Linked DNA regions of Homo sapiens. The protein of the gene in region 1 purifies or fractionates together with the protein of each later gene. This does not show direct contact. Each region holds a gene or a part of one and is shown on either strand. Other genes may lie near its edges. The genes, in order: RAB6B, SLC12A6 and SBF1.

What was found.
Region 2: the proteins of RAB6B (region 1) and SLC12A6 purify together in Homo sapiens (affinity purification with mass spectrometry; 4 studies listed by BioGRID and IntAct, with this or other methods). This does not show direct contact.
Region 3: the proteins of RAB6B (region 1) and SBF1 purify together in Homo sapiens (co-immunoprecipitation; 3 studies listed by BioGRID and IntAct, with this or other methods). This does not show direct contact.

The regions. Positions count from the first base shown.
Region 1 is NC_000003.12:133,840,338-133,843,987, forward strand, and holds part of RAB6B (ras-related protein Rab-6B), read right to left. Parts: intron 1,327-3,650; coding exon 1,273-1,326; intron 1,054-1,272; coding exon 948-1,053; intron 1-947. UniProt on the Homo sapiens protein: The small GTPases Rab are key regulators of intracellular membrane trafficking, from the formation of transport vesicles to their fusion with membranes. Rabs cycle between active GTP-bound and inactive GDP-bound states.
Region 2 is NC_000015.10:34,327,715-34,331,364, forward strand, and holds part of SLC12A6 (solute carrier family 12 member 6), read right to left. Parts: intron 1-3,650.
Region 3 is NC_000022.11:50,444,350-50,447,767, reverse strand, and holds the end of SBF1 (myotubularin-related protein 5), read left to right. Parts: intron 1-158; coding exon 159-246; intron 247-314; coding exon 315-446; intron 447-527; coding exon 528-626; 3' UTR 627-2,768; downstream 2,769-3,418. UniProt on the Homo sapiens protein: Acts as an adapter for the phosphatase MTMR2 to regulate MTMR2 catalytic activity and subcellular location. Promotes the exchange of GDP to GTP, converting inactive GDP-bound Rab proteins into their active GTP-bound form.

The DNA.
Region 1 (3,650 bases):
TGCACACCCAAGGGGAGGGGAGGTAGCTGTCCTCAGAAGCCTCAGTTTCACACAGCCTGGTATCCCTTCTGATGTGCCTCAGGCCATGTGAACCCAGGCCCTTGCGGGCCCAGCTCCCACCTGCACTCAGGTGTGGAGGGGGCCTGTGGTCAGAAGAGAGGTGGACAGAAGGGGTGGGCAGAGCCAGGGCAGCAGGCTGGGTGGCGGGGGCATGCACCAGCGCGGGGACATGCATGCTTCCTTGTGTGATTTTTAAGGCTGTGGACAGCACCTAGGGCATTCGCCCACTTCAGGGTAACCACAGCCCTGAGGGCTTATCAGGTGTGTTCCATTACAAGAGCCTTGCAGGTCTGGCCTCTGCCTCGGCCCCCCACCCCCACCTCTGGCCCTGTGCGCCCTTGAGGCTGTGCAGTCCTGTTAAGAACACCTGCCCTGGCCTGAAGAGCCACAGTACTGGAGAAGGGTTACCAGCCTACTGCGCTTCCAGACCCCCTTGCCTACCTTCCCAGGGAGTCCTGCACCCACAGCTGCTGGGCCGGGGTTGGCCTAGGGACCAGCGTCTTCTCCCATGGTGACACACATATAGAAGTAGCTCCTTAGGGAGCTTTCTGACAGCCAGGGAGAGGGAGGGTGCAGAGAGGCTGGAGCAGGGCCAACCTTGTGAGCATCTGCTCACACCACAAGCTGGCCTCCACTCCGAGCAGGACCAACCTGGCCCTATAAACCCCTGTCGGTTGCAGGAGGGTGGGGAGCAGTGGAAACCATGTTGGTGTTCAAAGGCAACTCACCACTGCTCCCTGCCTTTCTGCATTCAGGGAGCAATCGCACACACATGCGTGTGCACACACATGCGTGTGCACACACATGCACACAGGCCTGGCCAGGGTCACACCTGGGCCCTGGACCCCCTATGAGCCACCCTCCCTTAGGAGCAGAGCCTCACTCACTTGTGATGTCGTACACCACCACAGCCACCGTGGAGTCCCGGATGTAGCTGGGGATCAGGCTGCGGAACCTCTCCTGACCAGCTGTGTCCCAGAGCTGCAGTCGCACCTGTCTCAGGGAGGGCAGGACCATGGGCAGAGGGGTCAGTGGGGCAGTGAGGTCCTCCTGGTCCGGGGGACTGGGAGAGCCGGGCTCTGCAATGCTGGCATCACCAGCTCCAGCCCCTAGTGTCGGCAGGTGCTCTCAGTGGTGCCCAGCTAAGGGTCCTAGGGGATAAGCCCAAAGGAACCCTCCCTGCCCCTCCCAGTCCTGATATTAGGTGCTCACCGTGCGGTCCTCCAAGTACATGGTTTTTGACAAGAAGTCAATCCCAATGGTTGCCTGTTAGAGAAAAGCACAGAACGGTCAAAATCAAAAGGTCTCATGCAAAGGGGCAAAAGCCTAGCGACCACAGGTGGTGGCATAACCAGCAAGAGGGGACGCTCATGTCAGGTCTAATGTGGCCATGCTCTGTCCTCCCTGCCCCTCCCTGCTACCACTCAGCGGCTCTCTCACTGAGGGATCAAGCTGAGGAAAGATGAGGGTGGCCTTTATAGGGTGAGATCTTCTCTGGAGAGGGCAAGTGCTTCAGAAGCAGTGAGAGCGCAGTGGTGAGGAGGCCTCCCCAGGAGCAAGGCCACTCAGGCCACTCAACGCACATATCCTGCCCTCCCCACCTGGACTCCCTGCCTTGTTCCCTTCATGGCCTAACCTGCAGCTTCCAAAGCCTCTTCCCTCTGCCCTAAAGCATGGGCCTGGGCTCAACACTGACCTCGGGAGGGTGGGAGGCAGGGGGCAGGAGCAGGCAGCTTGCTGCTGTGTGGGTGCAAACAGCAGCATGGCTTTTCTCAGGTGCGGGCACTGCAGACCACCCAGAGTGGCCTCTCGCTGGGAGGCCCCACTGGCTCTTTTCTCCCCAAGCCAAAACATTGGAAGCTGTCACCAGCTCCCCTGTGCCACACCTATGCCTCTTCTGCCCTGGCACCTGTGAGAGGCAGCCAGCCTTGTGGCCAGATGGCCAGGACCCACCACTCACTTGCTGTGTGGCCTTGGGCAGGCAACCAACCTCTCTGGGCCTCACAGGCACCCGGTACCTGTCAGTAGGACTGAGATGCTGTCAATGTAAAATGGAGATATCACTGCTATGTAATCAATAATAACAAAGACTTGGACACAGCCTGAATGTCCACGGCACTAAATAAGCATAGTGTGGTATATCCATGTGATTAGAACCCTTGGCAGCTGTTAACAATCACATTCTTGAAAAAATATTTAAGGATTTGGGGAAACGGTTATCCAGTTAAAAAAACAAATAAACAAAAAACAGGTTATAAAACATCATGTGGCGAGTGATCCCAATTAGATTAACTCAAATAGATCTATGAGTATTTTTCATGTTTTCTTAGACACTGAAGTGAAGGGAATCTGCTAACATGTTAATAGCATCACGGTCTGAATAGTGACAGAGCATTTTCTTTCCTTCATTACACTCCTTCATTACACTTTTCTCTACTTTCCACAATGAACATATAACAGTACTAAAATTAGAAAAAGTCCTTTGAAATAAAGTTTAATAAATAAGTTTAATTGTGTGGAATGCCATGATTTTTGACTGCAAAAAACACAACCAAAGGAAGCCCAAGAAAATAGAAAAGGTCATATCTCCAGTCCCCCCAGGCTGAATGCAAAGGTATGCACCAATGTGTGTGCACAAGTGTGCATGTTTACACAGTCACACTCCCAACTCGTTCCACAAAGGACTGAGACTGGCTTGCACCCTCCTGGAAGCTTGCCTCATAACACAAAGATATGGGGGGTCATTCTACGCTCTGGAGCATACGATGCTAGAATGTGGGCACTAGACAAAACACCTTAGATACAATCCAATCAATCCCTTACTTTGGAGATGAAAGAACAGACCAGAGGGTTAAAGGACATGCCTAGTGTGACTTCACTCATCAGTAGCAGGGCTGGGAAGATCAGAGCTGCAAACTTGGCAGCACCTGGGCTCTTTCTACCACAGCTTCGCATAGTGTAGCCACCGAGGCACAAATCTGCAATGACCAGTGCTTGTGGATGCAGACTTTTTCCTTCACAGGTGTATGTTAGATTGACAATCCTTGTCTTCTGATTCCCTTATGGAGAAATGTGCATAGCAGGTAGAAGTCTCTCAACTCCTCAATGCTCAACAGGCTCCCCAGGAGTGACATGCTCCTTTTGTAGAGTCACCTTTGAACTAAAACCAGGTGCATGAGCTTAGGACTGGTGGCAGGGACTGCTGGTTGTCCCCAGTATGTAGTTTCCCTTTCTATAGTAACAGAATTCTGGGTGTGCAGATGGACTCAGGGCTGCCCCAAATAAAGAACATATTTCCCAGCCTTCTTTGCAGCTGGGCGGCTACATTCTGGTTAATGGGATGTGAACGTGATGTAGGCATCTTTGGGGTCAGGTCCTCTGTGGGTAGGGAGTACCCACAGCTGCTCCCTTTCCCACTGTCCGGTGGGGATGAGTCATAGTGGCCCATCCAGATGAGGATGACAGAGGAGCGATGACATCAACGAAGGCTGACTCCCTGACCCTGAGGAGCTACTTCAGCAGCGCTGGACTGCTCAGATTGTTCTATTTTGTTTAAGTCACTGTTATTTTGGGTTTCTGTTAACATAGCC
Region 2 (3,650 bases), on another chromosome or scaffold:
AAATTTTGGTTAGATTCAATTTCTCATAGCTCCTCAAAGTGAAAACGTGGATGTGTACATAAGAGTTTTTAACTTATTAGTGTTCTCTCTTCTCTCTTTTTTTAAACTAGCAATATGAAAAATAAATAGCTTTACCCCAAAGTAAATGTAGACCTGTCTGGTAAAATGAGAGAAATTCAGGTGCTACTTTGCCAAAAATTAAAGTTATTTACCAAATGGTTATGACTATAAACAGGTGAATGTCATCAATTGAGTTTTTTGCTCAAGGCCACGACAAATATAATGAGGATTAGCAATGCCGTAATAAAACTACAAACAAAAAGCTGCCATTGGTTAAATTAGCTAGAAAACTGGAGACTGAAACCCAGCTCTGAGCTAAGATAACAGGAAATTTTAAAAAGAAAAAAAAAAAGACTAAAATTAGAAGACCTGTCATTTCCTAACAATGTGGCTTTTGTTTTCTATTTCTACAGTTTTCAACTACAAAAACTGAAATTTTAAGAAGAAAAAAACTTCAGCCGTTACATTTTTTTCAGTTAAGACATCCAAAGGTAACTTCAAAACTTCAGGTTTCGCAAAGCCCCTCAGACTGACTTATTTACAATACTGACTTGATTCTGAAATCTTGTTAAGTATAAATTCCACTTTAACAGTAGCTTAAAAATTCTTCAAAAGTAAGACGCACCTGAATATCAGAAATGTTAAAATATGGTAATGTACACACCTTAGAGCTGAGCAAATATGGTGATAGTGTTTCCTACTCATCAGGTACTGAACTACCATTAAGGCAAGGTGCTGTATGCATGTGTATATGTTGTATGTTCTGCAGTTTTGTGCTTGTACCTTCAAATGTAATTGTTGAGATTCTTAAAAGTATACCAGGGCCAGGTGCGGTGGGTCACACCTGTAATCCTAGCACTTTGGGAGGCCGAGATGGGCAGATCGCTTGAGCTCAGGAGTTCGAGACCAACCTGAGCAACATGGCAAAACCCCATCTCTACCAAAAGCCAATACAAAAGTTAGCTGGGCATGGTGGTGCATGCCTGTAGTCCCAGCTACTCAGGAGGCTGAGGTGGGAAGATGGCTTGAGCCCAGGAGTTCAAGACTGCAGTGTACTACAGTTGTGCCTCTGAATAGCCACTGCCTACCCAAGTCCAGCCTGGGTAACAGAGCTAGACCCTGTCTCAAAAAATAAAAACATATATACACTGAAGCACTAATTACAGGGTTTTAACAGAGAATAGCTTCTTGTTTTTCCACATACTTGTAAAACTTATAAAACTTCATTAAAAGAATACATTGTTTTAACATTCAAATGCTCACATAATTCCTACACTATAGCTCTCCAAACTTTCATACCTACTCCTCAGAAACACACATCACCAAAAACTTAAACTCATGTAACTTCATTATTCTGAAACAACAAGCTCACCAGCTACAGCTGTGTAGACAGTGCACGAGGGCATTAAGCCAGAAGGGCAAGGGGAAGAGGGTTGAAATCCAGCTTGCCCTTCTCCAGTGAAGTCATGATGGCTCAGGGCACAAAGGAGTGCCTTTTTAGAATTTGCACAAAGTTCTTAGTAGTCCAGAAGTATATGTTAGACACGAAGGGCAAAAGAAGCAGCAGCCATAATTCAAAAGCTTACAGCATTATAAGTTGCCTTAAACATCAGCATTAGAAACATTCCCCTTCTTCTAACAGCTTTAAAATGGGAAAGCATAACTTTCATAAGGTTCCCAGGTTTGCAGGAGTACCTTCTTTCATTTCCTTCCATTCCAGTAAAGGTAATATCAAAATTTATGAGAATCTGGAATCTAGAAACATGCCACTGAGAACAAAAGAATTTGGGCTCATGATGGAAAGACTTAGTGAGGACACAGAAGAGACCACCGAAGATCAAAGACAAGAAGTTGAGGTAATCACTGTATTGATCACTGATATTTAATCAAATATCTACAGCATTCTAGGACACACTCAAAAGAAAATCCTTTAATTGTAATTTAACCTTTTTAAAAATTGGCCAGGCATGGTGGCTCATGCCTGCAATCCTAGCACTTTGAGAGACCCAAGTGAGAGGATCACTTGAGCTCAGGAGTTCCCAGACATCTTCAAAGATAAAAGCTAAGAAATAGTAAAATGTACCTTTTACTCTACTTCAACAAATTATAAACATTTGCTAATCTTGTTTTGTCTATCTCTCCCCAACTTTTTTGGGGAGGAGTGGGGAGGAAGGAGCTGGAGTACATTTCATTTAACCTGTAAATACTTCAATATATATCTTTATAGATAACAGCTTTACATTATCACAATGTCATAAACATCTATAAGAAAATTAACAATTCCTTAATATTAATATCATGTACATGTTCAAATTTCCCCCACTCGTCTCAAAAGTATCTTTTTTCAATTGTTTTATGCACATCAGAATCCAAACCAAGTTCACACACTGCATTTGGCTGATACGGCTCTTTTTATCTGTAACAGCTTTCCCTCTCTTCCCATCACTCCTCCTCCACCCCATCCCAATTATTTGTTGAAGAATCTAGTTATCCAATAAAACTTCCCATATTCTGGATTTGGCTGATTGCTTCTTGTGGTATAAAGCAGTATATTATAAAGTTTAATCTGGCTACAGAGTATAGAGAAGAGAGGAAAAACAGTTAAGGTATATAACCAGCTGGGCGCGGTGGCTCACGCCTGTAATCCTAGCACTTTGGGAGGCTGAGGTGGGCTAACTGCTTGAATGCAGGAGTTCGAGACCAGCCTGGGCAACATGGTAAAACCTTGTCTCTACAAAAAAAAAATTAGCTGGTCATAGTGGTGTGCACCTGTGTTCCCATCTACTCAAGAGGCTGAGGTGGAGGACTGCTTGAGCTCAGAAAGTTGAGGCTGCAGTGAGCCGTGATCACACCACTGTATCCAGCCTGGTTGACAGAATGAGACCCTGTCTCAAAAAAAAAACAAAAACAAAAACAAAAAAAACAAAACTATCAAGAGGATGCTTCTTTCAGACAAGCTAAGAAGGTACCAAATCAACATATTTTAGCTATTAGAATGCTGAGGTAAAACATGGATAGTATTCAATAATTATATAATATAGAAGACTTATTTAAGAGAAAGGTAATAGTCCATCCTGGCCAACATAGTGAAACCCTATCTCCACTAAAAATACAAAAATTAGCTGGGTGTAGTGGCACGTGCCTGTAGTCCCAGCTACTGGGGAGGCTGAGGCAGAAGAATCACTTGAACCCAGGAGGCGGAGGTTGCAATGAGTGGAGACCGCACCATTGCACTCCAGCCTGGGCGACAGAGTGAGACTCTGTCTCAAAAAATAATAATAACAATAATAATAATAAGTAATAGTCACCTATGATTAGCAAAACAATATAATTCACTTATTTTGGTGTGTGACTAAAAATGATAATTTTGTTTTTTGTTAGGTTTTGTTTGTCAGGGTAGAGGTATTTATTTATTTGAGACAGAGTCTCGCTCTGTCATCCAGGCTGCAGTGCAACTTCCGCCTCCCAGGTTCTCATGCCTCAGCCACCTGAGTAGCTGAGATTATAAGCATGCACCGCAACACCTGGCTAAGTTTTCATATTTTTAGTAGAGACGGGGTTTCACCATGTTGGCCAGGCTGGTCTCGAAC
Region 3 (3,418 bases), on another chromosome or scaffold:
TGGCCCCCTGGCCAGTGCTCTGGGCTTAGGTCAGTTCTGGGGACAGGGTGCCTGGTCTTACCTCCTGGGCTGGGACAGCAAGGGGGGGACGACTGCTGGGGCCTGGGCTTGGCTGGGCCATGACGGTCAGCCTGGCCCTGGTTCTGCTGGAAATGCAGGTCCTACGAGGGCACTCTGTACAAGAAGGGGGCCTTCATGAAGCCTTGGAAGGCCCGCTGGTTCGTGCTGGACAAGACCAAGCACCAGGTGAGTGATCAGGTGGTGGGGGGGACTCACGGGGGAGGGGGCTCCGCTGACTCTGTGGCCTCCTCCAGCTGCGCTACTACGACCACCGTGTGGACACAGAGTGCAAGGGTGTCATCGACTTGGCGGAGGTGGAGGCTGTGGCACCTGGCACGCCCACTATGGGTGCCCCTAAGACTGTGGACGAGAAGGCCTTCTTTGACGTGAGCCTTGGCCGGGGCTTGGGAGAGGGGAGGGGCTCTGCGGTGTGGGGGCTGCGGAGTCAGTAACCCGCCCTTCCCCAGGTGAAGACAACGCGTCGCGTTTACAACTTCTGTGCCCAGGACGTGCCCTCGGCCCAGCAGTGGGTGGACCGGATCCAGAGCTGCCTGTCGGACGCCTGAGCCTCCCAGCCCTGCCCGGCTGCTCTGCTTCCGGTCGTTACCGACCACTAGGGGTGGGCAGGGCCGCCCCGGCCATGTTTACAGCCCCGGCCCTCGACAGTATTGAGGCCCCGAGCCCCCAGCACTTGTGTGTACAGCCCCCGTCCCCGCCCCGCCCCGCCCGGCCGGCCCTAACTTATTTTGGCGTCACAGCTGAGCACCGTGCCGGGAGGTGGCCAAGGTACAGCCCGCAATGGGCCTGTAAATAGTCCGGCCCCGTCAGCGTGTGCTGGTCCAGCCAGCGGCTGCAGGCGAGTTTCTAGAACCAGAGTCTATATAAAGAGAGAACTAACGCCACGCTCCTGTGCCTGCCTTCCCCACTCCCCGGCTGCCTGCTCTCGGCCTACCCAGAGGGTCCCATCTGCCCCTATCCAGGCCCACCTGGCGGGAGGTTGGCATCTTTCTCGTGAGCCTCTCCTGGTGCCTGGGTCCACCCAGCTCGGCCTGCATGTCCCTGGGAGTGACTTTGCTCTGGGGGCGGATCGAGCAGGAGGCTTCACTGGGGACTTGCTTGATTCCCTCCACGCCTCAGGGCTGGTCTAGGGGCCGGCACGGCTGGAGAGGAAGCCCCCATCCCTACCCAGGGGATGCAGAAGCTGACCTCACAGAGGCTTGGGGGTGAAAGGGTGGGTGGTCATTTGACCCCAGAAGGCTGTTGCAGGTCCAGAGGACACTTGAGGTGGACGTCAGTTTCTGGCTAGACCCGAGCTGAAGGGATGGAGGCCGGAGGCGGGGGGGGGGGGGGGACAGTGGGCTCCCAGGGGAATGCAGGTTGACCACATCTGGCTCCTGCCAGGCAACGAGCAGCATCTGGCAGAGTAAGGGGCCAACGCCCATGGGGGATGGACCCTCTCAGTTCTTGGGAATTCTGCCCCAAAAGTCCTTTCCCTGGGGTCTCAGAGGGCCCCCGTCCTTCCCTTCTTGGTGTCACTGTGGCCCCTCACTGCTCTTTTCCTATTCAAACCTGAGTCCCACCAGGCCCAGGGCTTCACCTGCTGAGCTGTTGTGTCCTTGCCTGTGACGAGGCCTGGCCAGGGGTGCAGGAGCAGAAGGTGGGGAGGGTTATAGACGCTGCAAAGGCCAAGAGAACATCTGAGAGTGGCAGCTGGTGACCTGGCCAGAGGGGCTGGTGAGGGGCAGAGAACCTGGCTAGAGGCTGGGTCCCTCAGGTGGTCCTCTCAGGTGGGAGGCGAGCAGCAGGTGTGGGTGAGGGGAAGGTTCTGATGACAGCTGCAGAGGCAGGGCCCAGTGCTGGCAGGTGGGGGGCCAAGACCCTCCCCTGGTGGGACGTTGAAGCCAAGGATGGCCTTGGACCCTGTCAGGCCCAGCATGGTCCCGCCACCTCCCCCACCCCACAGGTGGTGTTGGGACACCTGGGCGAGATGTGAGGGTGGGCTCACTTGAGCCACTGAAACCAGCCAGGTCTTCCCTCAGGCCGGACAGATGGCGCCTGACCGAAGTTCCTGGCACCTGGAAAACCCACAGGTCAGAGTAAGGGGAGAAAGGACCCTGCCCTCCCTGTTCCACGTCTGTGGGGGGAGAGGACAAATGCCAGGCACAGGGTAGGCGGCGAGAACAAGGCACTCAATGTGTAGCTGGGGCAGAGACTCGGCCTCTGGGGAGCTGAGCGGGTTCCCTCCACCCCCAACCGTGGTGGAAAGACAAGCTCGCTGGGGCGGGGTGGGGGTCTGGTCTCCACCTGCCCCTCCCACTCAGCCACTGAGGACAAGGTGGGGCCCAGGCTTCTGGGAGGGGGAGCTGGCACAAAAGGAAGTCCTGGGGTTGATGTGTTTGAGCGTTAGGCGAAGTGGTTCCCCCCATCCCCCAAACGGAAAAATGTCAGTATTTGCTAAGCTGTAGAGACCTGATGCCGTGATGTGGCCTGTTCCGCCTCCACCCATTACACGGGGATAACGCTGGGGGGTGGCGGGCCCACAAAAGAGGTGCTGGAGGAGACTCTCCCACCCCTGGCCGGGCCGGGGCTTTGGGGCCGGAAGGTTCACAGTACGCGGTTTGTCCGAACGTCACGGCTTTTATTGGGAGTTGGGGGTTTGGGGTGCCCTGTCAGGTGATCAGAACATTAAAAATGGACTCAACGTAAAATAATCTTCTGGACCCTTCTAGGACGACATGGCCGTGACCGGTAGTGCTAGAAACCAGTCTTCGAGCCCCTAGTGCCACACCATGTCCCCCCACCTGCATACCTGTGGTCTCCCCCTGCCAGGCACCCTGTGCTGGGCACAGGGACATCCCTGCCAGGCCTAGAGGGCCTTGTGTTTTTAAGGCAGTCAAATCTTGCAGCCTGGTTCAGTGCCAGCTCCAAGGGCTATTGGGTAGCTGCAAGGGTCAATTATGCATTCCTGTGAGTCAGGTTTTTCCAACCCAGGCCCTTGACTCTGCCCTGAGCTTGCAGCTGGATACAAAGTGCAAAAAAGCTTGGCTCCTTCTGTATTCTTTAAAAACAAAACAACAACAAAAAAAAAACTGTAAAAACAGCCTCCATGTCCACGCCCTTCCTGGCCCATCAGGTCCTGGTGGCATCTCAGGGTCCTGCCCCCCCCACCCCCACCCCCACCCCGGCTCCTGCAGGCCGACCTTATTGCTGTGCTCTGGGCTTGGGGGCGGCTGAGGTGCCCCTCTGTCCTCCAGCAGGGCACGAGTGACCTGAGAGGCCCACTCAGGCAGAAGAGACGCAAGCTGGGCCGTCCAACTGGTTTCAACTGCCAGCTTTACCAATGCAGCATTTATTTTAA